Regions from separate parts of the Homo sapiens genome. Here all the other regions are linked to region 2. The links come from fine-mapping of genetic effects on gene expression. A gene starts in region 2. Each other region holds a variant in brackets. All regions are shown on one strand. Distances are from middle to middle. Region 1 holds the start of ZNF484 (zinc finger protein 484). Region 2 holds the start of SUSD3 (sushi domain containing 3). Region 3 overlaps FGD3 (FYVE, RhoGEF and PH domain containing 3).

What was found. PIP is the estimated chance that this variant, and not a neighbour inherited with it, causes the effect. A credible set is the group of variants that fine-mapping cannot tell apart.
Region 1: its variant is the best candidate, but not a certain one, in a credible set for the expression of SUSD3 in lung (GTEx, PIP 0.85).
Region 3: its variant is the best candidate, but not a certain one, in a credible set for the expression of SUSD3 in whole blood (INTERVAL, PIP 0.59).

What each region holds. Positions count from the first base shown.
Region 1 is chr9:92,877,577-92,887,634 of GRCh38, reverse strand. ZNF484 (zinc finger protein 484) reads left to right here and starts at 9,597. Exons shown (of 5, transcript NM_031486.4): 1 at 9,597-9,745. It also overlaps the pseudogene SPATA31B2P. RefSeq lists enhancers at 3,984-4,500, 4,501-5,018, 9,354-9,793, 9,307-9,842. The variant G/A (reference allele first, on the strand shown) is at 5,081.
Region 2 is chr9:93,053,546-93,063,603 of GRCh38, reverse strand. It overlaps SUSD3 (sushi domain containing 3), which reads right to left and starts at 4,903. Exons shown (of 5, transcript NM_145006.4): 1 at 4,774-4,903. The coding sequence starts at 4,861. RefSeq lists enhancers at 771-1,338, 2,729-2,778, 2,847-3,827, 3,828-4,808 and silencers at 4,319-4,728, 4,739-5,188.
Region 3 is chr9:93,012,952-93,023,009 of GRCh38, reverse strand. FGD3 (FYVE, RhoGEF and PH domain containing 3) reads right to left here. Exons shown (of 18, transcript NM_001083536.2): 9 at 9,012-9,158; 10 at 7,181-7,273; 11 at 4,795-4,874; 12 at 3,149-3,179; 13 at 2,586-2,693; 14 at 621-683. It overlaps LOC101927954 (a long non-coding RNA gene), which reads left to right and starts at 8,066. Exons shown (of 3, transcript NR_121565.1): 1 at 8,066-8,083; 2 at 8,516-9,819. RefSeq lists an enhancer at 240-1,140 and a silencer at 7,438-7,674. The variant A/G (reference allele first, on the strand shown) is at 4,252.

The sequences.
Region 1 (10,058 bases), 180 kb after region 2:
CAGATGCTTGCCCATCTGGAAGGAACACAACAGCGGCAGAAACTTGAGGCTGGGTCTCTGACTTCGTGGCCATTCCAGGCTCAAATTCACTAACAACCTCCTCCCTAAGACACAGCTTTCTTGGATCTTGGGAGACAGACATTCTAGGGAGGAGAGAGCTTTTGCTGGCCCCTGGAGCCTCGAAACCACGCACATCCTCACTTGTGGTTTGGATGTTTGCCAACATACAGGTTGCCAAGGGGACTCTGGGTTGTGGCACTGCCTCCCTGGTCTCTCCCGCCCTTGAAGATTGGGCTCCTAAGCTCCTGCTCTGCTGGGTGCTGCCTGTGAGGCTGTATGTGAGGGGCTTAGATGGCCACCTGCCCTCCTGTCCAGCTGTAGGAGCCTTCAAGGACCCATGATCATTCCAAGATGGGATCCTTCGTGGGGCCCTCTGGAACTGCTTACATGCAGGTGAGGAGGCCTGAAGCCTCTCTGGCATGTGAACAGATGCTTTGGTCAGCACCTGCTTTCTCAGACTTGCCATTGGTGGCTTTCTAAGGAACGTGGCCACCTCAACTTTTGAGCCAGCCCCAGATTCACAGGTGGCTGAGGAGGGACCGGCAAGCTGTGTATTGCACAAGGATGAAACCAGTTTAAAGCACTGAATGGGCTTGAGGACCCTGAGGGGTGGACCCCACCTGTGTTTGGCCCAAAACCTCAAAATGTGGGCTCCCAGCACCTGTTGAGTACATGGCTCAAGGAAGGAAAGCACCTGGGCTGTGTTCACACAGGCTTTCCCACTTTTGGGGGGTGCTAGATTGCTGGTTTTCATGTGGGTGTTGGACACGGGAAGAGCCTGGTTGACAGCAAGCCAGGATCGATGCATACTCACGGGGATCAAGCCCTCGTTGGTCTGGCCCAACCTCTTACCCATGTGGGCTTTCAGGATGTTTTCTATATGATTCCTGTCCGTGAGTCTTAATAAATCCCTACCGAGTCACTCCTCAAGGGCTTCCTCAAGTTCCTTTCTGACTCTTCAGAGGTCACCCCCAGAGTCTTCCCTGGGAAGCTTTCTATGCCCCTGGATAGATTTTGCGGGGCCTCACCCAGAATTTGCCCCAGATGTGGGCACAGGTCCCTCTCTAGCTGGAACTTCACCTTCTGTGCCTCCTTGCTGCTTTCACCTGTGGACATGGAGGACTGCCAGGACCTGGGTTTGCCCTTCGCCTGACTTTTCCCTGGCAATTCATCCCAAAGCTGCATCAGATCCAGAGACTCTTGAATCTTGCCCTGGTGTTGAATGAACCACTTTTCAATATGTTGCTCTGGAGTTCAGGACTGACTGGAAAGTTCTCAGGCAGAATGGGTGTCCCCTTTCCTGGGGAAGGTTAGGAGTGGAGACACTAAAGATGTCCTGAGATTTTTGGACCCTAGGGGGTAAAGCCAACCCACCTTATAGTTGTTTCCTCAACAAAGGCCATTCAGGGTGCTGAGTTTCAGGTAGGGAGAGAGCTTGCACTTTATTCTGCGACGCAGGGCAAGCTACTCCAGTGTTCTTCATCGGGGATGGAAAAGCAGGAGATAGGACTGGGAAAGAGGATTGAAGATGGGCCTGAGCCATAGGTGTGGGCCGGAATTGGGGTGTGGATGAAATAAAGGGTTGGGACTCAGGCCCCAGATGGGACAGGGGCTGGGCCTGGAAAAGCAGTGGGGACATTGTAGTCTCCCTTTGAATTGGGCAGACATTGGACATTTCATTGATGTAAGGATGTAAGACCCTTACATACAGTCAGTGACCCAGGCATTAGCCACCAGAGATTCACTGTGCAGAGAGGGGAGGCCCCAGAAAAGCTGGCTATAATTCTTCTGAAAACTTTCCTGCAAGAGCCTAGGATCTGAGAGCTTCTGAGGACTGGGCAGCTATTTTGAGTTCTCTCCCATGTTCCAGAAGGGTTTTGGGCTTGTGGTGTCCTGCTCAGCATCCAGTGATTTAACCAAATTCCCCAAAGCATTCAAGTGCTTTTGTGGGCTGTTTTGGAAATCGTCCATCATTTTCTTTTTCCTCTCAAATGTTGATTTCTGTGACTTGTATCCCCACGACATCCTGGCCATCAGAGCTGAGCAAAAATGGTCTACCAGCTTCCATCTGACAGGTCTCTGGTGGGTGGCGGGAAAGATGATCTTGCTGGACTGACGAATTGAAGACGCACCAGGTTCTGGTAGTCTCCTGCCACCAGGAGAAGGCAGAAACTTGACTATTTGAGCCGCCAAGACCTGAGATGGCTGGGACAGAAGCTGCCAAATCCTCACGTGGAGTCAAGCTTTGAGGGACAGTGTCCAGTGGAAGTGCCACTGAGTCACAGTTAGATGGAGTTATCAGAGTGGAGTCCCACAGGGGAGGAGCAGTGAAGCCTTTTGGAGGAGGCGGAGAGCAGGCCAGAGGATCAGGAGTGCGTGGTGGGTGAGGGAAAAGTGCAGGTGGCTCGGGTGAGGGATGTTCTAGGAGAAGGGAAGGTTCTGGTGGCTGGGAGGCACTTAGGGAGGAGACTGAGGTGGTCATTGGGCCTGGTGGTGGGGTGGAGGCCAGATCCTGAGGATGCTTGGTTCAAGGATCCGGGGAAGCTAACAGGGAGAGAATGGGAGCAGCATCTTCTATAGGCTCATGAGAGGACCGGGAGGCTCCATCAGGTGCTCTTTTGCCCACCTCACCTGGGGAGTCTGGACCGGAGAGCTGACCAAAGTCACCTTTTTCAAGGTGTGGCCCTAGGAGGCTGCAGGAGACAGGAGGCACAAGCTGCAGCCAGGAGCAGGTGGATTCGGAGGTCAGAGTGGGCGCTCGGGCCACAGCCCCTCCACCACCCCACACCCTGACTGCCCAATTCTCCTGCTACCCCTTGCCCCAGGCCTTTACTCTCATCCTCTGTCCCCCTGGTCTCCCCATCCCAGGTCAGCTCCAGGCTGCCTATGGCCCTGAGGTCGCATCCCAGCCCTGGTAGGAAGGATGCAGGGAAGGGGAAGTGCCTCACCTCTGCAGTTGTGAAAGCAGGTCCCAAGTCTCCTCCAGGCCTCTCAGGCACTCTCTACAAGCTGGAAATCAGACCGGGTTAGGGCAGTGAGGGAGGGGCCTGGGATCTCACAGGAGGCTGAGTGTATGTTTCTTCAGGGAAGACCATGGGGAATTAGACCCTGGAACCCACCCATCTGTGTCCAAAGCCACATGGCCCCGATGGTAATAGCAAGGCATGGAGGACAGGGCTTTGTCATTCACAAAGGGCTTCCACAAACAGGCCCCCCACCCCCATAGTCCTCACAACTGCCCTGTGTGGAGAAAGGACTGGGGTGGTCTCAAAGAGGAATCAGCCTTAGCAGAGTTGAACAGCTGTTCCCAGGGAGCGGGAGGCCCCCTCAACCCCCTCCGCATCCAGGCAGGCATTGGTCTCCCCAGAACACACACACTGCCCCCTGCTGGGTAACGCTCAGTCCCTGGCCCACCATGGCTTCATTCCGGCATGGAATCTGAGAAGGACCCGGGGTTCTGATTTCCTTCCTAGGAGCCCCCACCTCAGGCTTCTTCAACTGACTTCTTCAGAGTCAGTTCCCTCAGGGACAGACGAGATCAAATTAACTCTAGTGTGCCCTGGCAGAGCCTTACCTCTGAAGACTGTGGTTTTTCATCCTGCCTCTGGGCATCCCCCTCTGCCCTACTGGACACTGGGAGACAAGATGACGCGAGGAGACAAGATGACACTGGGAGACAAGAAATGGCGAGGAGCTAGGACCGGCTCTCCCTCTCCACCCCCAGCCCAGCCGCAGCACTCTGCACTCATGAACCGCATGGCTCTCTCTGTCTTGCTCAGGGAGCTCTGTGTGCTTCCTCCCATTCATGTTTAAATGGATGATAAACTGCTTTTCTTCTTAGAAAAACAGGAAGAGGGGGCCAGGCACGGTGGCTCATGCCTATAATCCGAGCACTTTGTGAGGCCGAGGTGGGTGGATCACCTGAGGTCAGGAGTTTGAGACCAGCCTGGCCATGGTGGAACCCTGTCTCTACTAAAAATACAAAAACTAGCCAGGTGTGGTGGCGGGCACCTGTAATCCCCAGCTACTCAGGACGCTAAGACAGGAGAATAGCTTGAACTCTGGAAGCAAAGGTTGCAGTGAGCAGATATCGCTCCATTTCACTGCAGCCTGCGCAACAGAGTGAGACTCCATCTCAAAAAATAAAATAAAATAAAATAAATAAAAATAACACACACACACACACAGACACACACAGAGGGATTTTCAATATGAGGTCCACCATGGACGCCATCAGTCCCTGTTCCTCTGCTCCTGGAACACCCAGGCTCAGGCCCACAGGCACCACTGAGCTGTCAGGTAGGATTCTGCTTCCCAGGAGACAAGAGGAGATGCCAGGCCCCGGTGGGAGGCCCTTGGGGGCCCAGCACAGGCCCCATATCACCCCACACAGAGGAGGTTGGGCCCCAAGCCACCTGCCCCAGGAAGGGGCTGATGAGCCAGGGCTTAGGGCCTGGCCTCGGACAGAGACCTCCCCTGTCTCATGACCAGAGACCTCCCCCGTCTCATGACCATTCCTGGCCGCTGAGCCCACGGGTTTGATTTTGCCTTCACGCCTCCTGCGCTCCCCAACAGATGGACTGAGGGCTTGGGATGGAAATCCCTGTACACAATCTACCCCTACCAACCCCTGGCTGCCCTGCCTCTCCCTGGAAGCATGATGTTCCGGTCTCTCCTGAGACTTCCCATCGCAGAAGTCCCTCCACTGGATTTGGAAAAGTGGAACTAATAATAAAAAGGAAGGAGAGAATCAAGCTCTGTGGGTCTGGACTGAGGGCTCCTTACCTTTCTCTTCCCAGGCGATGGTGAGGGTGGATCGTCACAATGGAGGTAAGATAAGTAGGGGAGTAATAGGAAGAAGAACCCCAGGGCAAACACCAAGGTGAGGAAGATATCCAACACCCATGGTGTGGAGCTGGGGGTGTTTAGCGATGAGGGACTAAGTAATTTTAGAGGAAAGGGAAGATTCTCCATGTGAATAGGTGCATTGCTTTCAAGCAACTGAGCTCTGGGCATCCCC[G/A]TGGAGGCTAGGGACTGGGGCCCAGGCCTGCATCACAGAGCTGGGCCTTCACATCACAAAGGGCTCCTTTGTTGGGGAGGGGCAGTAGGAGGGGGAGACCGAAGCACAGCCCCTCCCCACCCCCCAAGCCGGGGATCCCTCCACCTTCCCACCTTCCAGATCTCTCCTTCCCGCTAAGTTTTGTCAGTGATAGAACTCAGCCAATTTTCTATTCTTTCTCCCTGGAACACATATTACCTGGTTCCTTTTATCTGTTGGAGTTGGTGGCTTGAGGTTACCTATTTTATGGCCCTTGAAAATCTGAAGTTGACTCTGAAATTTTGGCTATGTACCAGGGATTTTTATTCTCAGAATCTCATTTGTCCTCAACTCCAGCTTTCCCACACAATGTTTTTGTCTTATATCAATCCAGGGACAAAATGTAAAGTTCTTTTACTCTTATTTAGTTTTGCAAATTTTGAATAGTAAGTTTTAAAAAAATTATTTCTATCTCACTTTCCTTTTTTTTTTTTTTTTTTTTTTTTTTTGAGGAGTCTCTCTCTGTCGCCCAGGCTGGAGTGCAGTGGCCTGATCTCGGCTCACTGCAAGCTCCACATCCCGGGTTCAAGCCATTCTCCTGTCTCAGCCTTCTGAGTAGCTGGGACTACAGGCGTCCGCCGCCACCACGCCTGACTAATTTCTTTTTGTATTTTTAGTAGAGACGGGGTTTCCCCGTGTTAGCCAGGATGGTCTTGATCTCCTGACCTCGTGATCCGCCCGCCTCTGCCTCCCAAAGTGCTGGGATTACAGGCGTGAGCCACTGCGCCCAGCCTTCTATCTCACTTTCAATCAAAGGGACCTACCCACATACAATTAAGATTTTTTTAAATTCTATTTATGTACTTATGTGTTTATTTTAAGTTCAGGGGTACATGTGCAGGACATGCAGTTTTCCTTTTTTTTTTTTGAGACAGAGTCTCACTCTGTCGCCCAGGCTGGAGTGCAGTGGCGCGCTCTTGGCTCACTGCAAGCTCTGCCTCCTGGGTTCACGCCATTCTCCTGCCTCAGCCTCCGGAGTAGCTGGGACTACAGGCATCTGCCACCGTGCCTGGCTAATTTTTTGTATTTTTAGTAGAAACGGGGTTTCACCGTGTTAGCCAGGATGGTCTGGATCTCCTGACCTCGTGATCCGCCCGCCTTGGCCTCCTAAAGTGCTGAGATTACAGGCATGAGCCACCGCATGGGGCCTGCTGTCTTATTTTAACGTCTCTCTGGGCTTGATAATTTAAAAGGACTGACATTCCTCTGATAAAAGTTATTTTATTTTCTCATTTTCCATCAATATATCCTGTTCAGTGAAATATCTGTTCATGCCTTTAGCCCATTTTCTAATTGGATTGTTTTTCCTTGTTGTTGTTGTTGACTTTTGAAAACTTTAAACAATATTCTAGATATGACCTCTTTGTCAGATATGGTTTATCAGGTGTGGTTTGCAGTTTTCTCCCAGTTTTTACCTTGTCTTTTTATTAACAGGCTCTTATGCAGGGCAAAAGTTTTAAATTTTGATAACATCCAATTAATAAATTCTTATAATTAATTGTGCTTTTCTGGTGTCATGTCTAATAATTATTCATCAAGTCCTAGGACCTGAAGAATTTATCATTAAATTTCATATTTTTACATTGAGATCTATGATCTTTTTTTTTCTTTTTTTGAGAGGGAGTCTCTCTCTGTCACCCAGGCTGGAGTGCAGTGGCACCATCTCAGCTCACTGCAAGCTCCACCTCCTGGGCTCACGCCATTCTCCTCTCTCAGCCTCCCCAGTAGCTGGGACTACAGGCACCTGCCACCACGCCCAGTTAATTTTTTTGTATTTTTAGTAGAGACGGGGTTTCACCTTGTTAGCCAGGATGGTCTCGATCTCCTGACCTCGTGATCCACCCGCCTTGGCCTCCCAAAGTGCTGGGATTACAGGCGTGAGCCACCACGCCTGGCTGATCCTTTTTTTTTTAAATAAAGACATGAGGTTAGATTGAGGTTCATTGTTTTGTCTATGGTATCTAACTGCTCCAGAACCACTGTACCATTGAATTGATATTGCATCTTTTTCAAAAGTCAGTTGGTTGTACTTGTATGGAAATATTTCTGAGTTCTCAATTCTGTTTTATTGAACTGTCTATACCCCTGCCAATACCACACTGTCTTGATTTCTGTAGCTACGTAAAAAGTTAAAAAATTGGGTAGAATAATTCCTCCCACTTTATTCTTCTATTTCAGACTTGTTTTGTTGAGCTGTATCATAGAAAAAACTATTCGTGACACCTGTTAAAAAATAGTAAGACAAACTTTATTCAGAGGGATTATTGCAATAGATATAGAGATTACTGCAATAGGGTCTTGCAGTAATCTCCAGTTTCCATATATTCAGGTTTCCCTCTGAATAGAAATTTTATAGCCACAGAGCAGGGTGGAGGGGTGGTAGTGTACGGAAAATTACTAATAGGAGGGAATCTGGCTAAACTGACCTCACAGAATTCTTGCTGAAGCCATGCCAGAGTGATCAGATATCACCTGGGGATAGTAGACAATAAGAAAACCAATTAGATATCAATGGTGATCAGATACGAAGATGGAGGATTCTGACTAAATTGCCTTGCTAGGATTCTTACTAATATTGGGCAATTCACAGACAACACAAAAGCCCAAAAGCCAGGGTTTAGTTGACAAGAGAGTTCAAAGGAGCATGGCTAGAGTCTGGTTATGGAGAGAATTTTTGTCAGCTGACTGGGTCTTCCAGAACTGTGTAGAATAAAAATGATGAGCACAGACATATTTTCCTTCTTCCCAAACTGAACAGGAAAGCATTCAGTCTTTTTCATCTTTTAGTTTGACATTAGCTGTAGATTTTTTTCTAACTTAAAAGTTAGAAAGTTTACCTCTGTTCCTAATTCCTGAAAGTTTTTTTTTCATTATAAATGGGTGTTGAATTTTCTCAAATTCTTTTCCTGCATTGATATAATCATGTAATATGCTTATCTTTAGCTTGCTAATGTGGGGGGTTACACAAATTGATTTTTGAATACCAAAACAGCTTTTTATTCCTGGAATAAATATCACTTGTTCATGGTTTGTAGTTATTTTTATATATTGTTGAATTATTTTTGCTATTATTTGGTTGAGAATTTTTCCATCTATATTCATGAAGAATACTGATTTCTTCTTCTTCTGTCTTTAGCTCTGATATCAGAGTAACACTGGCCTCATGAGTTGGAATATCTTTCTATTGTCTTCTTTCTATTCTTTTTTTATTCTGGAAGAGACTGGATATAATTCGTGTTAACCTTTAAATGTTTGTTAGAATTCTCTGATCTAGCTATCCAGGCCTTAAGATTTCTTTTTCAGATATTTCAAATTATGACTTCAGTTCTAGGGCTATTCAACATAACTATTTCATGTAAGAGAGAATTTGTGCTTTTTCAAGAATTAGTGCATTTCATCTATGTTGTGAAATTTATGTTTGTAGAGTTGTTTGTAGTATTCTCTTTATTCTTTTGATTTCGTCATGGTCTACAGTGGTATCTCCTGTTTCATTCTGGATATTGATATTTTGTGTCTCCTCTACAGATTTGTCAATTTTATTAACATTTACAGAACCAGCTTTTGTTTAATCGGTTTTTCTCTATTTTTCTTTTTACATTTTATTGAGTCATCTTCTTATCCTTATTATTTCCTTTCTTTCACTTGCCTTCGGTTTATTTTGCTCTTCTTTTTCTAGTATGTGAGGGAGCTTGGTTATTGCTTTGAAATTTTTTTCTTTTCTAATGTAAGCCCTTAGTGGTATATACATTTTTCTCTCACCACTGATTTAGCCACATCCCACAAATTTTGATATGTTGTGTTTCACTGTCATTCATTTCAATGTATTTTAAAAATTCATTCACTTTCACTTTCATTCATTTCAATGTATTTTAAAAATTTGAGACTTTCTCTCTGAACAATGGATTATTTAGCATGTGTTTTCACGTGTTTGGAGATTTTCCTTTTATCTTCCTGTTATTGATTTCTAGTTTAATTCTATTGTGTTCAGAGAACAAACTGTATGATTTCAGTTGTTTCAAATTTGCTGAGATTTGTTTTATGACCCAGGTTACTTCATATCTTGCTAAATGTCCCATCGACACGAATAAAATGTGTATTCGGCTGCGTTTGCGGTGTTACATAAATGCTGATTAGTTCCTGTTGATTAACAGTGTTGTTGTGTCCACAGAAGCATTGGAGAAAGACTGTAACCTGAGGTGATAGGCTTTGATTGTGTCCTGGCTTAGTATGATGGGACACACCTCTGCTTGCTTCCTTTCCTTTGGACAACCCTCAGCCTCTCAGTCTCTACATGACCTCAACATGGCCGCCCACAGGCCAGAGTGTCTACATGGGCGCCGCCATACTGGCGCCCAGCCTAAGCCGCTGAAACGGGAGCGTGTTTGGCAAAGCGCCATGTTGATTACTGGCAACCTTCAGGCCATGAAGACTGCTGAGCATGCGCAAACCCAGGCAGCGCTGTAAGAAGTACCTCTAGGCCTGGGAGGCATTGAGAAAAAGGAAGTGGGTCCTGTTCTGGTTCTTGCGACTATAGTCACCTCCCGAGGCAAATGACCACTGTCCTGAGAGGACGTGGGTGAGGGGCAGGTGAGTAGAGGGATGGCAGCATCTGTGGACTGAGCAAGAAGAATCTCTGATGTCTGTCCTGAGCCTTCCGGTCAGTGATGGGGTCGGTCAGTGGATGGAATAGTGGAAGTCGGAGCGATCTCTGATGGTGGATCTGAGGGAGGAGTGAGGGGGCACTGAGGGGTCTCTGGTGGTGGATCTGCAGGCGGAGTGAGGACGGACTGGGGGTCTCTGTCTGGTGGTGGATCTGAGGGCGGAGTGAGGGCGGACTGTGGGGTTGTGGGGGAGGATGACTATGGGAACTAAGGAGGGATCTGAGGAGTGTGAATGATGC
Region 2 (10,058 bases):
GGCAAAGTCATGTTCCTGTGGCCTCTCTTGCTGCAGGGGCCACAGAAAGAGAAGCCACTGACCGGCAATGCCCCCTCTTAGCCCCCAGTTGGGTGGGCAGGCTTCCTGGAGGGCTAACCAGTAGGTTCCTGGGGTCTGATCCTGACAAGACCCATCCCAGCAGCAGGTCTTGGACCTGAATTTCTCACCTGGCTCAGCCTCAACTTCCCCGTCTGCAAAACTGGTGACTTGCCCGCCTGGGGTCTGGGAAGAGCAGGACTGCCCTATGGAGATCTTGGAGCAGGATCTGGTGCACAGGATCACTCCCTAGGTCAGGGCTTGAGCAGCCCAGGACATGAGCCCTACTGGGGCCCTGGGCCTCAATCCCCAAGGTCCATGGAACACAGGGAAACTTCAGCCCTTAGCCCTTGATCCCCAAGGTCTGCAGCATACAGGGGACCTTCAACCCTCCAGGCCCCAGTGGGGTCTCCTGTACTCCTTTCCTGAGCCTGGGAGGCCAGGAAACACTTTCTCTGGGCTGGCTCCATTTTCCAGATGAGGAAACTGAGGCCCACAAACCTGCCCAAGGCCCCTGGCTGCATGATGGCAGTGCCAAGAGTAGGAGGCTGGACTCCTGTCCCCTTGGGGTAGCCCTTTCCATAGGATTCACAGCGAACTCACAGCCAGGATTCCGTAGGATTCACAGCGAACTCACAGCCAGGATGGGGCAGGCAGGCAGCACAGTGCCAGGAGCTATGGTCTACAAAGTCTCTACCTGCACCCAACTCCCAGGGACATTCCAAGAAATCACCAAGGCATGAGGATGGAGCTGGTGGATCACCCTTGTCTCTAACCACCGCACAGCCAAGTCCTGCTCACACAGAGACTCCCGGACTCCCAGGGGACCCAGGGCCACCCCTCACTGACCTCCTGAGCCCCTCCCCATGCCTGATGCATGAGAGGCAGATCCCATCTGTCCCCTGTCCCCTCCCCTGCTTCAAATACTCATGAACTCCCAGCTGCCTGCAGATGGCCCTCCTGTGCCTCACCCCTGCAGAGGACCCCACACCCCAGCTGTCTTTGAGGATGTCTGTTCCCTAAAGCTGGAGGCAGAGGCCTTGCCTCTCTGGATCCGTCCTGCCCTCCAGCCCCATCCTACCCACCTGCTGTTCCCCAGCCCATGGTTGTGGCTGCCCTTGGTCTGCCAGCCTAGTGCTGGGGCATTTCTTACCTGGCACCCTTTAGATCCCTTTGCATGTAAATCTTAAAGAAGAGGGAAAAACAACAGAAAACGGATTTGATGCAAACAAGATACAAAATAAAAACACACGAGGCCCTGCCTGGCCCTCCCACGGCTCAGGGGCAGGTGGAGAGGACCAATGGGTACCTCAGGGCCACACCTGTGTGATGCCTGAGCGGCCCTCAGCCCACATGCCGCGCCTGCGCCTCTGCCTGGCCACCTGCTGCAGCTGCGCTTCCTCCCTCCCTGGCCTTATGTACGGAGGGGGCCAAGCCTGACCGGGTGGATTCTCATCCTCCCAGCCTGTGAGGCCAGCCGGGCGTCTGAGAACAATCCGTACTTGTTAATCTTTTATCTGGAACCTTGGACCTCAGGTCGGCCCCTCCATCCTCCCTCCTGGGATTCGCCACACAGCCCCTATAACCTGACCTCGCCTGCTGTGGGATTAAGTAACTATGTTCCCTTTTATGCTGGCTGAGGCTGTGGGAGAGAGTGACAGAGGCAGGCTGCTGAACCCAGTCTCACCTAGACTCGATCCCCACCTGCCAGTGAGTCCCTGTGTGACCTCAATCTGGGTCTCAGTTCCCCCAAATGTGAAACAGGAACCTTCAGGAGGAATTTCTCAGAGTTTAAAGGGGGTGACTTTTGCACACAGAGGTGCTTTGAGAACAGGACCCCCAAGACCCTGGCAGTGGGGACAGGCCTGGCCCCAACACTACATGTGGGTGTCCCACAGCCCTGGCTGTGTGTCTTCAGGTAAGTCACTTGCCCTCTCTGAGCCCATCTCCACATGGAGGGTGAGCACAGGCTTCAGAGCCACTTCTGCCTTCCATCTCCAGGCTGAGCAGCAGGGTGGCCTCAGGATGTGGAAAGCACACAATCCTCCATAAAAGAGCTGGGCTAATTCCAAATGAGGAACATGTACTCCCACATCCCTGGTGGAAAACCGAGGGTCCGGGAACCTATGCCTTCTACCAGCAGCTCTTTCGATGCCAATGGGTGGCAGGAGGCCATAGCCAGGCATCACAGGGTGTGTCTGCCTTGCTTTGATTTACACATGCATTCACGGGGTCTCAGTTTCTCCTCTGTAAAATGGACACAGTCCAGTTCTGGGGCAGGAGTTCAGGGGTGAAGCCAAGAAGGCACCAGCAGAGCATGCCTCCTGCTACCCCCTCTCCAGGCCCTTCCTCCAAGGCCCTTCCACGGATGCCAGGGGGGTTACCTACAGCCACTGGAACCCTGCTTTCCTGGACAATCTCCCAGATCAGGGAGTGCTGGGGCTGACCTGGGAGCAGGGCCAGGGGCCAGTCATACAACAAACATGATAAACTCCTACTCTGAGCTAGTCTCCCCCGCGCCCTGCCCTTCTCCCAGGGCGCTCATGGGAGATGAGGGAAGACCACTTCCTGCCTCTCAGGAAGATCAGTCTGTCCACACTACTGTGCTCTTCATATCTACTCTAGGAAAACCAGTGGTAATGGCCCCATTTTAAAGATGGTGGGAAAAACACACATCCCCGTGCTATGTTTTTGGTTTTTGTTTTGTTTTGAGACAGAATCTCGCTCTGTTGCCCAGGGTGGAGTGCAGTGAGGTGATCACAGCTCACTGTAGCCTCGAACTCTGGACGAAAGCAATCCTTCCACCTTTCAGCCTCCCGAATAGCTGGGACTACAGGCGCATGCCACCATGCTCAGCTAATTTTTTTTTTGCATTTTTTGTAGATACGGGGTCTTGCTATGTTACCCAGGTTGGTTTCGAGCTCCTGGACTCAAGCAATCCGCCCACCTCAGCCTCCCAAAGTGTGGGATTAGAGGCATGAGCCACCACTCCTGGTCAGTGGTGTTTTAGTGTCAAATCCTCTCCAAAGGCTCCCAACCCCCCAGCCTCTAACTTCACAGCACATTTCACAGAGCAAGAAACTGAGGTCACATGGCAGGGGAGTGATGGAGTCCAGATGATGGCATCATCCCTGCACCAGAACAAGTACCCTCCCTGGGCTCCACTGGGCCTGTCCACAAGCTTGGGGGCAGGTATACAGTGGGGAAACTGGGGCACATGGGGAAACTGAGGCACAGAGGTACAGCGACTCACCCCAGGTCACAGGGGGGATCCTAACCCAAAACTCCAACAAGGGGGCCAGTGCCTGGGAAGTGGTCATGGTGGTCAGAGGCAGAGCCAGGGCCAGGCAGGATGAACAAGAGCACAGGGTGCCAGACTAAGCTCCATTCCCAGCACAAATTCCAAGGCAAACAGCCTTTTGTATGCAAATATGCCAGAGCCTCCAGATACTCCCTGGCCTTGGGCTGACCTTGGGCAAGTCAAGGCTATCCAAAGGGCACTGGCACCCACGCCCCCAGGCTGTTGTGCCAGTAGAAGGGGCTCCTCAGGTAGTACCAGGCCCTGGGCAGGCCTTGCTCAAACACAGGAGCAAAAGTGCTCATCACCCCAACACCAAATTAGGGACTCTGGACATTAGGCTGCCAGAGTCAAACTAAATAAACCAAATCCACCAGCGCCAGGAACAAGTCTCAGCGCCCACTTTGCTGAGCTGCGGACCTCTGCTCGGTGAATTAGCTCCCTGAGCCGCAGTTTCCCCAACTGTGAGAGGAAGCCATTCTCCTGCCACCTTCCTGCCAGTTCCCTGGGGCTGCAGGCTGACAGTGTGACCTGGTCCAGCCCACCCCACTCCGGGCCTCAGCTTCCTCCTGCGCAGAGCCTTAGCCCCGCAACGCCTGAGACGCCCAGAACCCTCAGGCCTAACGTTCGTGGGCAGTGGCCGCGGAAGTAAGCTTTTGGGATATCTGAGACCCAGAGTTCCGGTTTGGTTCCGTTTCTAAAAGGGTTAGACTTTAGAATCATTCAAGGAGCAAGGCCAGCATTCGAACCCCGGAGCCTTGGGCACGGGAGCAGACAACTCTTTAAGCACATTCTTGAATTCAAACACTTAAAAGTAAAATAAAAAGCAGCTTCTCTTCCTTCCAAAGGCCTCTGAGCCTCCTCCGAGACAGCCGAGGCGATCCCAAGCCTGGCTACAGGGTGACCTCGGACAGCCACTCCCCTCTCGCAGGCTCAGTTTCTCCATCTGTAAAGTGGAGCTGCGCTGGTCACCAAGGAATCGTGAAGATGACACCTCCCTCAGGCGCAGAGAGGGCTCCCGGCTCCCCCCTCCCGCCCCCGCGCCACCCGCCCGCCAGGTGAGGCCGGTTTCGACTTCCCCGGGAGGGGCGCGGAGGGGCCCGGAGCCTGCGGCGTGGAGAGGCTTGGCCGGCCGCGCTGTCCGCAGACGCCCGGGACCAAGGCGCTGCGGCCACTCGGGAACGGGCGCGCGGGCTGCTGCGTGCAGCCGCCTGGTTTCGAACTGCTCGCTGCCAGGCTTCGGCTCCGCTAGGGCGCCTGCTGGGCCGGCGGAGGGTCGAGGAGGTTCGTCCTCGGGGCAGATCGTTGCTGTGGCCCCCACCCACGGCTGTGCGGCCCCGCGACCCCCTCCCCTCGGCTTTCCCGTCTGTGAAATGGGCGCAGAGCCCCGCACGCGGCCACTCGGCCCCAGCCCTCACCTGTGCGGTTCCCTGGGGCAGGCGTGGTGACCCCGGCCCGCCCCCGGGGCCTCGCCTTGCCACGGAGGGTGGCGGCCGCCCAGCGCATCCTGCGCGCTCCGAGGCGCTTGGCGGGGTCTGCCAGGGGAGTGAGCCCGGCTTGTGGGGGCGGGGCCTGGGCCTGGGCCTGGGTGAGGGGCGGGGAGGCCCCGCCCTCCACGCCCGCCCAGGGGCGGTTCCATGCAACTTACAGACCACGCCCACACGTTGGACTGGGGCCGAGGTCCGGCCGGGGGCTGTGGGCGGGGGCCCTTGGGGAGACCAAATACCCAGCGGGCCAAGGCAGCCGGCTGAGCGGAAAGTGTTGCTACTCCGGGGCGTTGCACGCGTGGCTACCTCTGCCCAACACCCTTCCCCCATCCCTTCCTGTTCTCACCTTCACTCCTAGTGTGGTTTTTCCATGTGCTTCTGTGTTTTTATTTTTTGAGCAGGATTTTGCCTTCTCAGGGTGCCGGATTCGGCCGGTACCAAAGGGCAAACAGCAAAACGCCTCCCCGGCCCGCCCCTCCCGTAACCCACTCACCCCCAGAGTCCTGTGTGGACCCAGCCTTCTTTCCCTGTCTCTCACTGGGCCAGGCCGTCTGAGGCACACTGAGGTCTGGGTGCCCTTGTTGTCTTCGGTTCTCACTGAGGGGCCCCCGGCTGGGGGAAACAGGATGGAAAGCCCTGGGGTCTGTCTGCAGGGCCCACCACACCTGGAGGCCTCCCTTCTCCTGGCTTCCCCTTCCCACCCAGCTCCACTTGCAGCAGGCCCAGAGCTGTGATCCGGGCTCTTTCTCTCCCTCTGACCCCACCCAACCCAGGCTTAGCCCCCTGCCCAGGCAGCCACCAAAGGGTTGGGTGTGGTGTCAGGCCTCAGACATCCTGGATCTTGGGCTGCTTGTGGGAGACCACCTGAGCCATGCCTATTCCTGTGGAGCTGGCAAAGGCAATCCTGGCAGAGGGAACAGCAGGTGCAAAGGCCCTGGTTTGGCAATGTGTGGCAGCAGAAGCCCAGTGCGGCTGGCTTAGGCATGCCTCCAGGAGCGCAGAAGGTGGCCCAGGTGGGCCAGGCTGGCTCTAGAGTGCCTGGCAGGTGACCGTGAAGAGTGTGGATGTTCAGGTGGACCATGAAGCAGGGTTCCAGCAGGGCAGCCCCTCCCCGTCTCTGCTTTCCGAGCCCTCCAAAGCTGAGGTTCAGTGTGAAACGTGAGGGGCCCTCCCCCTTTCGCCATCAGGGTTGGCGTCACCCCTGATATGTTCTTCCCACTTGGACTTGTGGGTCACACACGATGGCTTACTTCAATCTCCTTTATTCAAAATCAAGCATGTGTATTCTTTCTGCCATGTCGGGAAGGGCAGGGCCATCAGCAGTGCCCACTCCAGACCACACTCTGGGACCCCAGAATGTCTTGCCAAGTGGCCCCTAGCCCACCTCTCAGGCCTGTGTGGTCCCTTCCCTGGTTTTGCCCACCATGCACCACCAGGCAGAAGGCCACTGCCTGTAGGTGCATGGACAGGGCTGGGAGGGAGGTCTGGGGCAGCCCTCCAATAGCTGGGTGGAGCTAGGTGGGGATGGAAAACACCAGGCTGCCTGCAGCTCCCTAAGCCACCACGCTGTGACCCAGGCCTTCAGGAGCCTTCAAATGCTAAACACCTGGCCATTTAGGAAGTGTGTTTCCTAGAGCTGTGTAACATAGTACCCCAGACTGGGTGCCTGAGAACAACAGAAATTTATTGTCTTATGGTTCAGGAGGCCAGAAGTCTGAGATCAGGGTGTCGGCAGGCCTGCAGTCCCTCCAAAAACTCCAGGAGAACAGCCTTCCTTGTATCATCCAGCTTCTGGCAGTTCCTTGGCCGGTGGCAACTTAACTCCTGTCTACACATGGTGCTCTCCCTGTGTCTCTCTGTGTTCAAATCTCTCTTCTAAGGACACCAGTCATATTAGATTAGAGCCCACCGTAATGTCCTCATCTTAACTTAAGACCCTATAAAGAGTCTGTAAAGACCGGCCAGGCTCAGTGGCTCACGCCTGTAATCCCAGCACATTGGGAGGCAGAGGCAGGTGGATCATAAGGTCAGGAGTTTGCGACCAGCCTGGCCAACATGGTGAAACCCTGTCTCTACTAAAAATACAAAAATTAGCTGGGCATGGTGGCGCGTGCCTGTAGTCCCAGTTACTTGGGAAGCTGAGGCAGGAGAATCACTTGAACCCGGGAGGCGGAGGTTGTGGTGAGCTGAGATTGTGCCACTGCACTCCAGCCTGGGCAACAGAGCAAGACACCATCTCAAGAAAAAAAAAAAAAAAAAGAAGAGTCTGTAAAGACCTTGTCTCCAAATAAGGTCATATTTGGAGGTACTGAGGGTTAGGACTTAAACATATAGATTTTGGGGGACACAGTTCAGCCCCTGACAGGTGGGATCAAGGAGGAAAGAGCATGTTTTTCTGAGCAGTCTGTCGCTTGGTTGGGTTGTGGACATTCAGGCTTGTGGCGCTGGGCCTCCATTTGTACTGTTAGGGGACCTGGAGGTGGCCTAAGGACCTCTGTCATGTCGTTTCCACAGGGAACTGTATGCCTTGCTGTGGCTCAGAACACCCATTTGCTGCCAAAAGGCCATCTTCAGGAGCTATGGGAGGGATCTGAGGCTGGTTCTGGAGGTGGGCCTGTCACCTATTTGAACACTGATCAGGGCCATCTTGTCCACCTTTTCCCAGGCCCTTGGAATGGTTTGCTCCTAGAAAGCCCAGCTATTCTAGCCATGCACGTGGGCGAAACTGAGGCATGTGAAAAGAACGGCACTGGCCCACTAGGGACAACCGCCTGGGGTGCCCCCTTCCATGGTGAGAACCATGGCTCTCTGACAGGCTTCCCTGATCCCTGGGGCAGGGGTGGGCACCCTTGCACTGAGTCTTCGTGTTCTCATCTGAGGGGTGGACATTGTCCTGCCACCCTCTCAAGGCAAGTGAGAGACTGTGATGTGCTCAGGATGGAGTGGTGGCCTCTAAGCTGGACTGTGAAGGCCCGTCAGCTTTTGAGCTTGGCCCACCCGCTCAGCTGTCCTAGTTGCCTGGTTTCCCAGACTCTCCAAGTCTAGGCACAAACTGGGAGCAGTGCTTAGGCTCTGCCTGCTTGGGTGTGTCTCCTTGCCTTCCTCACCCTCCTTCTCCATGGAGCCCTCCCTGATGGCACTCCCTGTCAGAGCCATTTCGTGCTGCCTGTCCTTAAGGCCTGCTCAGCCTGTGTCACGTCTCTGAAATGAAGAGGACATGTGGCCAGGTGTGGAGCTATGGACATGTGGCCGGATATGGCCGAGAGGATCACTTGAGGTCAGACACACCTGTAATCCCAGCTACTTGGGAGGCCGAGGCACGAGAATTGCTTGAACCTAGGAGGCGGAGGTTGCAGTGATCTGAGATTGCACCACTGCACTCCAGCCTGGGTGACAAAGGGAAACTGTGTCTCAAAAAAAAAAAAAAAAAAAAAAAAAACGCAAAACATATGGGCTTCCCTGCTGGAGGAGGCAGGGGAGGAGGCTAGGAGGAACGGATGGGCTGCTGGCTGCTGGTGAGGCAGGCCGGGAGAAGGAAGCAGAGTCAGGCACAGCCTGAGGAACTGACCAAAGCCACAGCCTCTTCCCAGCTCCATTTGCAACTGGGAGCACACAGTGCACTGTCAGTGGACACTTGTTGGATGGAACCTGGGAGGCAGGGGAGGCCTGCCAGCCCTGGGGCTCAGTGTTCCACTCTGTAACATGGGGGTCTTGTGCGCTGCCAGAGGTTTCCAGAGGAAGGTGAGGGTCTGGCTTGGGAGTTTCCTCTTTCCTCAGACCTTAGCTGAGGTGTTGCCACCCCCAGGAAGCCTTCCTCAACCCTTGATTTGCCTGACTCAGCACCCATGGGCCATGGTGGCCTGGGAGGGGACCCATGCAGAAGTCTGGTGGTGGCAGAGTTCTTGGCTTGGTGAGTTTTTCTAAAATTAGATAATAATTGTGGAAATCTAAAACAGTTTGTTTTGCCTTTTTTTTTTTTTTTTGACAAAGTCTTGCTCTGTCACCCAGGCTGGATTGCAGTGGCATGAGTTCAGCTCACTGCAACCTCCACCTCCTGGGTACATGCAATTCTCCTGCCTCAGACTTCCAAGTAGCTGGGATTACAGGCATGCACCACCACGCCCAGTTAATTTTTGTATTTTTAGTAGAAACAGGGTTTCACCATGTTGGTCAGAGTGGTCTTGAGCTCCTGACCTCAGGTGATGCACCCTCCCTGGCCTCTCAAAGTGCTGGGATTACAAGTGTGAGCCACTGCGCCCAGCCTGTTTTGCTTTATTCTTGATTTTAGTTTTTACTCAATAGAAAAATGAGATTTTTGTTCTGAAAACCTCTCACAATAGACCACGTCCAGAAAGTTCTTTTGCAAAAGGTAAGAGTCAGGGAAGCATTGGTGGCCTCATGGGTGTCCTCTCTTTTTAAAAACTGTATTACCTTTTAAAAACTAAAAGCAAAAAAAGAAAAAAAAAAAGTAACCTGACCTTGAAGCTCTAGCAGGCCAGATGTTTGCAGAGAAAACAATTTTCCCAAAAATGTTTTCTGCTGGGCCATCTGGAGCCCTCAACACCCACCACTTATCCTCCTAAAGCAAGGCAAGAGCCCTGTCCCCACTGTGCAGAGCGACAAAGGCCCCTCCCCGGGGGTACTCCCCTGCTGGGGCCTGAGCTGTGACCACCAGACTGTCCTACCTGGCTGCAGCCTGCACAAGCAGATCAGTCAGCCTGGGTGACATGACATCGAGCTGCCGCCCTCAGGTTCAGAAATGGTGATGCAGAGACACAAAGCAAGGCGCCCAGAGGGCAGAAGGAATGACAGATTCATGGAACAGCTACTACCAAACACCTACTGCATGCCAGGCCAGTTTAGAAGCTGGGATACAGCTGGGCCTAGGAGGGACAAACTCTGGCCAGGGGCTGCTCCCCCCATGCTCATCCTGCACACCAAGGCCTTTACCTGGCCACCACTGGGCTGGCAGATAGCAGGTCATCTTTTTTCCCACCCCTCAACTCTTTTTGTACTTTCTGAATTTTCCACAATGAGCATGTATCTATTCTCTGATAAGAAACAAGGATTTTAAATGCTTTGTAAATGTAAACTATTGCAAAATTTCCCACGGCCATTCTGATGTTCACTTGTCGGGAAAGATGTGGACTGACCTGGGTCCTCGGCTGCTAGGATTACACGGCATTACCATGCTCTAAGGAGTTACAACCAAGCAT
Region 3 (10,058 bases), 41 kb after region 2:
TTCCCAGATTAAACGGAGGGAGGCAGGCCTTATCCCAGTTCCCTATCCCCTGGCAGGCGGGCGCGTGGACACAGTCTGCCTGGCCGGAGCAGCACCCTTGTGGGCTGGCTGCCATAAGGCACACGAGAACACAGACGGGGAGAGGCAGGGAGGCTTAGGCCTCCCTGGCCGCTGCTTGGGGTGAAGAACTAAGCAGTCCTCTGCATTACCGAGCCTCCTAAGGACCTTGCACTGTTAATACATGCTTTATGGGACGATTCACACATGTTAAGAGCATAAATGTTCACTTGGAGCTCAGAAGATTCTCACATGTGTGCCCAGCTGTGTGACCACCTCCAACCAGGTAATGGACATCCCCACACTGACAGGCCTCTGCGTGCCCACCTTACAGAGTCCCCTGCAGTGACCACACAATTCATCAGTGCCTGGACTCAGACATAGCTTCACCTCCGCACACCCAGGCCCCCAGTCACAGTGAGCAGGGCAGACTGGCCCCTCAGCCCTCCGCCTCCAGGAGGCCCTGGTCTGACCCTCCCTCTCCATCTTCCCTATAGGTCATCCTGGTCTGACCCCCTGCTCTGCCTTTCACCCCTGCTGACCGCTGAGCATGGGGCACTTACCCCTGCTGCACCCGAACTGCCTTCGGTGGTCACCACAGGCTCCACAGGGCTGGTGCTCGTGATCTAGAAGGGACACAGAGGCCGAGTGAGAGGAGATTCCAGGGCCACGCAGCCACTGTGCAGCGGGGGGACAGTTCCTGAAGCCCCCAGCACCTCTGTGCATTGAGGGCAGGCTCGGGAGCAGGATTTCCCAGGCCTAGGATTTGCTGTGCCTCTGGGGAAGCTGCTCCCTCCCTGGGCCTGGCCTGAGCTGGAGGCCTCTCCTAGAAGGAGCATCTCCCAGTGAGGTGGGTGGCTGGTGGGTGATGCCTCCCTCTGGCCCGCCCTATTCAGGGGCTCTAATTTACACCAAGTCACCCAGTGAGTAAGGAGGGTCCCTTTGGGTTCTCTCTCATCCTCCAGGGTTCCTTGTGGAGTCTCTGCAGCTCCCCGACTTTCTCAGCACAGTGAGGCTCCGGGCTCAGCCTCTGAACAGAAAGGGCTTGGCCAGACTTAAGGACAGCCAGGCTCAGTGTCTCACATTCCCAGGTCACCTCCACTCAAGGCAGTCCCAGGACTCTTTCTTTCTGGATGGTGCAAAGTTCTTGCAAAGTAAATGCAGAAAGCAGAAAAAACCTAGCGGACTTGATACAAATATGAAGTGGATATGGGGGAGGTGGGCTGTGCCAGGCAGACCCCTGGAGGTGGTAGGGAGGGCAGAACCAGCCTGGAGTTGGGATTCAGGCCTGCGGGGTCTGGGTCAGGCGGCGAGAGTTGGGGCACCCTCACTCTGAGTCATGCCTGGTGCCCCCGTGAAGGCTGGAGCAGAGGGCCTGGCATAGGGTTCAGGGCACCGTCTCTCCTGGGTGCCTCCCTGGATATGTCCTTGCTACACTTCCAACCCCTATGCCTTGTCCAGGGCCAGTGACTCCAGGGCCTTCCTCGCAGCGGGCAGAGATCGGCCTCCTCACCCAATCCTCTCTCCCTGACTCCAGGGAAGCCCCGGGAGGAGAAATGGCCGGGGATTGGCCCTGGGGCTGCAGCCCTGACTCCCTGGCCAGGCTTCTCGGCAAGGACCCTGCAGCCCCGCCTCTTTCCCAGCCTAAGTCTCCATGTGAAATCCCCCTGGGCCCTTGGGGCAGCTCCACGTGAGGATGGGGAGTGAGATGCTCCTATTGCTTCCCTCAAGGGGCTCTGAGCCACCATCTCCCAGGGCACGGGGGCACTGGGAGGGAAATACAAACACAGAAAGGTGTCTGCAGTCATAGGCTGTGCTAGACCAGACAGAGTGGTACGCGGGCAGCGCACCACAGCCCTGTGATGCCAGTTCCACCACCCATGGCCTGGGGACGTCACAGAGCTCCTCAGACTCAGTTTCTGTGGGGATGATGTAACATACCTTTGTGTGTAGGATGCTGTGCAGAAGGCACCAGACAACCAAACAGGTCATGAAGGAGCGCTTCCTCCACGCCCACATCCTGCTTTCCCGCCCAGCTGGGCGCTGACCACGGGCCTGGGGCCCAGCAGGCTGCAGCGGCACTTAGTGGAGGGTGGGTAGGGGTGAAATTAAGTTCAGCCTAAAGCTGCCATGGAAAGGTGGCCGACTGTTCAAACCATGTTCAAATAAGGCAAACGCGGAACTGTAACCAACCCAGCTGTTTCTGTGCCTCACTTTCCTTTTTCTGTCCATAAATCCTCTCCAACCACACAGCAGCACAGGAGGCTCTCTGGACCTATTCTGGTCTCAGGGGTTGTAGGGGGTGGGTGTTATCCCATCCACAAATAGTTGTTTGCTCAATTAAATTGTTAAATTTAATTTGTCTTAAGTTTTTATTTTAACACAAGGGAGTGCCCGCTGTCCTGGTCCCTGGTGTAGCAGGAGGAAAGCCTGGAGGTCAAGCTGCCCACCCAGACGCCAGTGCCTTCTGCTCTCCACAGGTAGCCCGTCCCCTGGAGGTCTCTCTGCACCCCGGGCCACTGACTCACAGGCATGTCTGGAGAGAGGCTGGGGTCCTCATCCTGGCTGAAGGCGCCACCAAAAGCCTTGAAGGTTTCGCTGTTCTGTTTGTGCTTCTCGATGGTGGCCTGGATGATCTGGACACAGCAACACAACAGTGAGGACTATAAAGGGGCATGGGAGGATGCTACCCACAGGAGGGACGCGCCTGCCTCTGTCCCGAGGACGGGCCTTGGCGTTCCCAGAACAATGCCCAGGCCACTGGCCATCTCCCTTCCCCCCTACCAATGATGTGGTCTCCCCTTGGAGCTGTCCAGATTGAGGAGATCCACCCTGAGCGGGGAACCTGGCCTGTGACTCCACCAGGCCCGCTCATGTTTATTTGGGGGCCCTCAAAGAAATGAATGGGTTGAAGGGCTTGTGGCATCTGAAGCTGCTTATGAAGGCACAGTGTGGTCACTGCATCCCTGCAGGGTACAGCACAGGGCCAGCAGTCCCGGAGGCCAGGGCCCCCACCCTCTGAACCAACATGAATGGCCTTACTGCTCAATCACTTGGTCATTTGGTTACTTTACAACTTTAGAAGCTTCACCTGAATCCATTCTTTCTTCTCTTCCTCTGTCCTAAAAAACCAAAACGGTCTTGTATTAATCCAGTCTTGGATACTGACTCTAAATGACCAGCCCTCTCTCAACCCTGCAGCACACCCGAGCCACGCACTGGCTTGTCAACGCAGCTCAAGGATTGGAAGATTGGCCCCAAGGGCCTCAAAACACTCGTGGCCTGGTGGGGCCAGGTGAGCCATGTGGAGCCCTCTGCAGTGGCTGTAATTCAATGCCTCCTTGGACCATAATGGGTCATTATGAAGATCCCACTGTTGGTGGGGTGTGGGAGAACAGAACTCCCATGTATGGCTAGTCAGAGCACAGCCTGACATCACCTTAAAGGGTAGTGTGACAACAGCCACCAACATTTCAAACAGATGCACTACCCTGTGACCAGCAAATCTATGTCAGCAATCTGACGGCTACAATTACACATATGCAGAAACACCTAAAAACAAGGACACTGCTTGCAGCCGCATTTGTGATGGCCAGGTTCGGGAGGAGCGCAGGTCCTCGTCAGTGGGAACTAGCTAATGATCATAATGGAAAATTGTGTTGCTTTAGGAATGGTGTGCAGATATGGGATGATTCTTGACAAATTAAGTGAAAAAGCAAGGTGCAGGACAGGTTATACAGTAAACAGCCATCTGTGATTTAAAACATAGATATATGTGCATGTGCATAGAAAATCCTAGAAGGGGCTGGGCACGGTGGCTCACACCTGTAATCCCAGCACTTTGGGAGGCCGAGGGGGTGTGGATCACCTGAGGTCAAGAGTTCGAGACCAGCCTGGGCAACATGGTGAAACCCCGTTGGGTTTTCACTCAAACAAAAAATTAGCCTGGCGTGGTGGCGGGTGCCTGTAATCCCAACTACCCAGGAGGCTGAGGCAGGAGAATCACTTGAACCTGGGAGGTGGAGGTTGCAGTGAGCCGAGATTGTGCCACTGCACTCCAGCCTGGGAGCGAAACTCCGTCTCAAAAAAAAGAAAAGAAAATCGTAGGATACTCAAGAGAGGACTAAGAACGTGCTGGGCCTGCTGAACAGGAGGTGGGCAGAGGCTTAATTTTCATCAACTTCCCTTGGTACT[A/G]AAACCGCCCCGAGTCCCATAGATAGTTTATCTGATAAACATACAAATTGACCCTTCTGGTCTTAAAGCTTGAAAGTTAACATTTGTTTTATCTGAGTTCCTTCCTCAGAAAACACCTTCAGGCCTCTCAAAAAAACCATCAAGGGACTGAAACTCACCAGGTCACCACATCCAGACAATGAGATGCCCAGACCCTTTATTCATCATGATTGCTTCCTTGCCCCTCCCTAGTTCCTGTTTTCTTACACATTGTTACATTTATTCCCTGCTGTGTATGCCCCTAGTTTTAGTTGGTCAGGGAGATGGATTTGAGACTGAGTTCCCATCTCCTCGGCCAATTAAAGCTTCTTCCTTGGCAATAATCATCTCAGTGATTGGCTTTCTGTGCAGCAAGCGCAGGACATAGACGGAACCCTGGTGCTTCAGTAACAGTACTTTTAAATTTTAAGCCATGCATAAATAAAAATATATTACAAGGTTAACCAGTTTAGAAAAAGAAGACATGAGGTCAAAGACATTCACTAGAAACAGCCCGTTCCATACCGCGTCTGCAGCTCCAGGGACCTTTTTCTTCCTGTTATGATGAATGTATGTGCTGTGTTTGGCTTGACGATATCCTGCACCTGAAGGGGCAAGAACAAAGAACAAAGCAAACCCAAGCTGGTCATTTTAGCTCCAGCCTCATGTTTTCTGACTTAGAAGTGTTTCCCCAAGGAGGTAACAGAGGTGAGCCTGCAGCCCCACAGTTCTGCAGGGAGAGGGGTGCAGAGGCTTAGGTCAGCGTGGCTGCTACATGAGCTGGTCCATCAGGGACAGCGGGCCTCCCATCCTGCTCAGACACAGCTATGACCGCTCATCTTCTGTGCTTGGAACTCTGCTGACCAAACCCACCCCCCCGACACCCAGCCCGTCAGGCATCCTCCCCATGTCGCCCCATCCATCCTCCTTAAAGCCAAGCCATTCCCCACAGGCACCACTGGGCACTGCCCGCCACAGCAGCCACGTCCCCTTAGGATGGAAAGGGATCTGATGAGAAGAGCAAGGATGGCCTTAGCCACCCTGCAGAGTCTGAGCCCCTGAGCAGGTGCGCCCTGAGATTAGACATGTAAATAGGACAATGTGTGCCCAGAACTAATGAAAATGGGGTCACTTCTTCATAGAACCGCAGCCACAGATTCCATCCTCTTCCATCAGGATAAGACCACAGAGACCATGGCCGGGCGCAGTAGCTCACGCCTGTTCCATGTCTCATTGCAGTGGGGTAGTTGGGGGACTGGAATGGGTCCCTGTCCCCTGTCGGGAGGGCTTTGAATTAATGGGTGCTCCAAAAATATTTGCTAAATCAAAATATGTAATCATTTGCTTAATGCCACCAAAAATCCCTTCTTACCTTGAAATTCTCTGAATTCAGGTTAAGAAAAAAAACACTAACTAGAGAAAATACCTTTTTTTAAGGTTGTTTCATTATTATTTTTAAAATTATTTTTGAGACAGGGTCTTGTCCTGTCAGCCAAGCTGGAGCACTGTGAGTGGCACAATCATAGCTCACTGCAGCCTTGACCTCCTGGGCTCAAGCAATTCTCCCACCTCAGCCTCCCAAGTAGCTGGGAATAGAGATGTGCGCCACCATGCCTGGCTAATTTTTTATTTTTTATAGAGACACGGTTTCACTACATTGCCCAGGCTGGTCCCGAACTCCTGGGTTCAAGTGATCCTCCTACCTCAGCCTCCCAAAGTACTAGGATTGTAGGCGTGAGCCAGCGAAACTACGTGCCCAGCTTTTTATAGTAGTTAGAAGAAACCACTTTTCTAGTGTTTCTCTACAAAAAATCGGTCATGGCTGGGCACGGTGGCTGATGCCTGTAATCCCAGCACTTTGGGAGGCCGAGGCAGGTGGATCACGAGGTCAGGAGTTTGAGACCAGCCTGACCACATGGTGAAACCCCGTCTCTACTAAAAATACAAAAATTAGCTGGGCGTGGTGGCGCGCACCTGTAATCACAGCTATTCTGGAGGGTGAAGCAGGAGAATCCCTTGAACCTAGGAGGTGGAGGTCGCAGTGAGCCGAGATCACACCATTGCACTCCAGGTTAAGAAATACCATTAAAAATAATGACTGACTAGGCTGGGTGCGGTGGCTCATGCCTGTAATCCCAGCACTTTGGGAGGCCAAGGCGGGTGGATCACGAAGTCAGGAGTTCGAGACCAGCCTGGCAAACATGGCAAAACCCCTTCTCTACTAAAAATACAAAAATTAGCTGGGTGTGGTGGCACACACCTGTAATCGCAGCTACACAGGAGGGTGAGGCAGGAGAATCCCTTGAACCCAGGAGGTGGAGGTTGCAGTGAGCCACGATCATGCCATTGCACTCCAGCCTGGGTGACAGCGAGACTCCGTCTCAAAAAAAAAAAAAAAAAAAAAAGAAGGTCATTCTGGACCATGCTACAGATCTGCCTGGAACCCTCCCCCCGGCTCCGGTGCAGGAGGACAGGAAAGAGCTCAGGACCCAGGAACCAGACAAGGGAAGCCGGCCCCCGCCCCAGCCAGGATTGCTCCCTGCAACCCTGGGCTTCATGTTTGGGTTTGTAAATAGGGCCCCGAGTCCCAGTCTCACAGGTGACAGGATTCAGTCCAGGTCCTGGTGCCATCCCTACTGCCCCCTGCATCCTCCAAGGCTCTGCAGAAAGGGGAGTTGGCAGCAACGTGGCAGGTGGGCCAAGCAGAGAAGGGTGGAATCCTGCCCTTCCAGCCTGGGGCACCAGGACTGAGACAATGCCTTGGTCACAGATAGGGTCTATGGCTTGGAAAAGCAGGTAGGGGTGCCAGGCTGCACAGAGGTGAGTGCCTCAGCGGCCAGAGCCTGGTGTCCCCAGTCCTGCTCAGTGCCCCTTCCAGGGGGACAGGTTTGAGATGGAGGAGCTCACCCACCTGGAGGCCTGAGATGTCCATCTTCTCCCGGACGCTGAACTTCTGGCCCATGAGCCGCAGCTTGGGCACACAGTAAAGGATCATGCTGTTGAACTGCAAGAGGGATGGCACAGGTGAGGAACGAGAGCTGCCCGCAGGTCCCCCCAGGGGCCCCAGTGAGCTTCTCACATGGGATCCTTTTCATTTTTTTTTAATGTTATAAAGTGAAAAATATTTTTAAAAGATATGTGCAGTAATTTTAACTATGGTTACATCTTTGAGTGAGGAGACTCTAGTCGCTAGCTTTATTTTTGTTCATTTCTATTTTTAAATTTTTAAACCATGAACATGAGCTAATTGTATAATTTAAAAAAAAACCTTTTTTTATTTTTTTGAGATGGAGTCTTGCTCTCGTTGCCCAGTCTGAAGTGCAATGGCGCAATCTTGGCTCACTGCAAACTCCGTCTCCCGTGTTTAAGAGCTTCTCCTGCCTCAGCCTCCCGAGTAGCTGGAATTACAGGCGGGTGCTACCACGCCCAGCTAATTTTTGCATTTTTAGTAGAGATGGGGTTTCGCCATGTTGGCCAGGCTGGTCTCAAAGTCCTGACCTCAGGTGATCCGCCCACCTCAGCCTCCCAAAGTGCTGGGATTACAGGTATGAGCCACCACGTCCAGCCAAACCAAATCTTTTGAATGAGCTACTGATACATTCACCAACATGGATGAATCTCTCAAACCCACATGGTGAGCTAAAGGAGCCAGACTCATCTCATGGCATTGATGTGACATTTGGGAAAGGCAAAATTCTAGAAACAGAGAAGAGATCCATGGTTGCCAGGGCAGGCGAGCGCTTGCTCACAAAGGGGTGGGACAAGGGAACTGGGGGGGTGGGCGGGGGCAGTGATCAAATTGTAACTTGGCCAGGTGAGGTGGCTCACGCCTGTAATCCCAGCACTTTGGGTGGGTGGATCACCTGAGGTCAGGAGCTCGAGACCAGACTGATAAACATGGTGAAACCCCATCTCTACTAAAAATACAAAAATTAGCCGGGCGTGGTGGCGCACGCCTGTAATCCCAGCTACTCAGGAGGCTGAGGCAGGACAATTGCTTGAACCTGGGAGGTGGAGGTTACAGTGAGCCGAGATTGAGCCACTGTACTCCAGCCTGGGTGACAGAGCGAGACTCTGTCTTAAAAACAAAAACAAAAACAAACAAAAAAAACTTGTTCTGTAACTTGATTGTGGTCACAACTGTATTAGTCAAAACTCAGAACTGTAAAGCAAAAATGAGTTTTAGTTAACGTAATTTTTAAAAACTTAAAAAAAAACCTTTCAAAGAAATAATTGTTTATTCAAGGAGAATCAGAAGCTAGAGGAAAATGGAGGAGGAAAGAAGAACCACATCTGTTTCTACCGCGCCATGGCACCCGGGGGGGTCTCGAATTACACTTCCATCCCACCTTCCCCCTCCCTCCCGGCCAGGGTTTGGCTCAGGAATAGTTGAAACTGTGATTCACTGCTACAGTTCTCTGTGCTGTCCTGGTTGCTACAAGCTGAAGTCTGCTCAGTTCTGGGGACGAAAGAGGTATGGGCTACGAGGGATTAAAAAATGAGATATTTGCAGCAAATGGGGAAGAGCCACTGGCAAAAGTTTGGTGTCTGGATGTGGAGGAGGGAGGCTCCCTATGGCTGGGGGAGGGATGCTGAGGGTCTCAGAGGGAGCCACAGTCCCAGTAGGAGAGGCCACAGAAGAGCCATGTCCTTGGGCAGCCAGAGCCCTCCTGGCACTGCCCTGGGCTTGAGGCAAATGGCAAGGGAGGCTCTGCGGCTGGGCTGGCAGGGGCCAGGCTCACCAGGAAGAGGTGGCGGTCCTGGGGGGTGCCGTTCTTGGCTGACAGTTTCTGGATTTGGCCCTCCTTGATCAGTTCATTGGCCGGGTTGACAATGTCTTCTTCCCCACCCAGCTGCTCGTACACCTCCAAGAGCTTGTGCATTTTCTCCTGCAAGAGACATGGGACTCAGGCACCAAAGGTCTGTGAGAGTGGCTGGTGACCTAGAGATGCACGGAGTCCTTCCCTGCAACCGTGGCCCAGAATCCAGAGAGGGCAATGAGCTACTGACAAGGGTGGGAGGGAAAACAGAGTGATGTTTGAGTTGGGTATTGAAGGATGAATAGGAGTTCACCATGCAGAGCATAAAAACAACGATAAACAGGAACAGAGCTAACCATTGCTGTGAGCCATGTGCTGTTCTACATGATACATGTTTTAACTCACCTAGTGAGGTGAGTGCCATTGTTATCTTCATTTTACAGACAAGGAAACTGAGGCACAGAGCGGTCAGTTGAGTATCTGAGACCCAGACTCGGACAATCCATATGTCACCTTCCCCTGACCATGGTGACTGGTGGGGTGGTCACATGGGTAACCAGCACCCAGAAGTGCGATGGGACAGCGTCAAAGCTCATGCTTCAGCTCTGAGCCAGACGCCAGTGTAGCAGAACGCAGAGGTGAGCCTGCGGCAACCTCGACAACAGCCACATGTCTGAGTCTGTACCTGCTGTGCCTTGGAAGCCCCGTCCTTGGACCTGAGTGATCTCAGCCTGTACATCCTGGAGGCGGCTGGGTTTGGCTGACCCTTCCGTCTCTGGCACCAATGCAGGTAGGTGCAAGTGGGCACAGGGTGTGGGGGGCACCAGAGGAGCCAGCAGCAGAGAGCTTAGAGGAGCAGACTAGGGTAGGGGTGAGGGTCTTTTGAGAACTGGGGGAATGGGCAGGTACCTGGTATATACACAGGGGAGCTGGGTGTGCACCTGCCCACTACTGGGGGCTGGGTGTGCAGTTGGTGTGTACCAGGGGGGCTGGGTGTGAACCTGGTATGTACTGGGGAGCTGCGTGTGC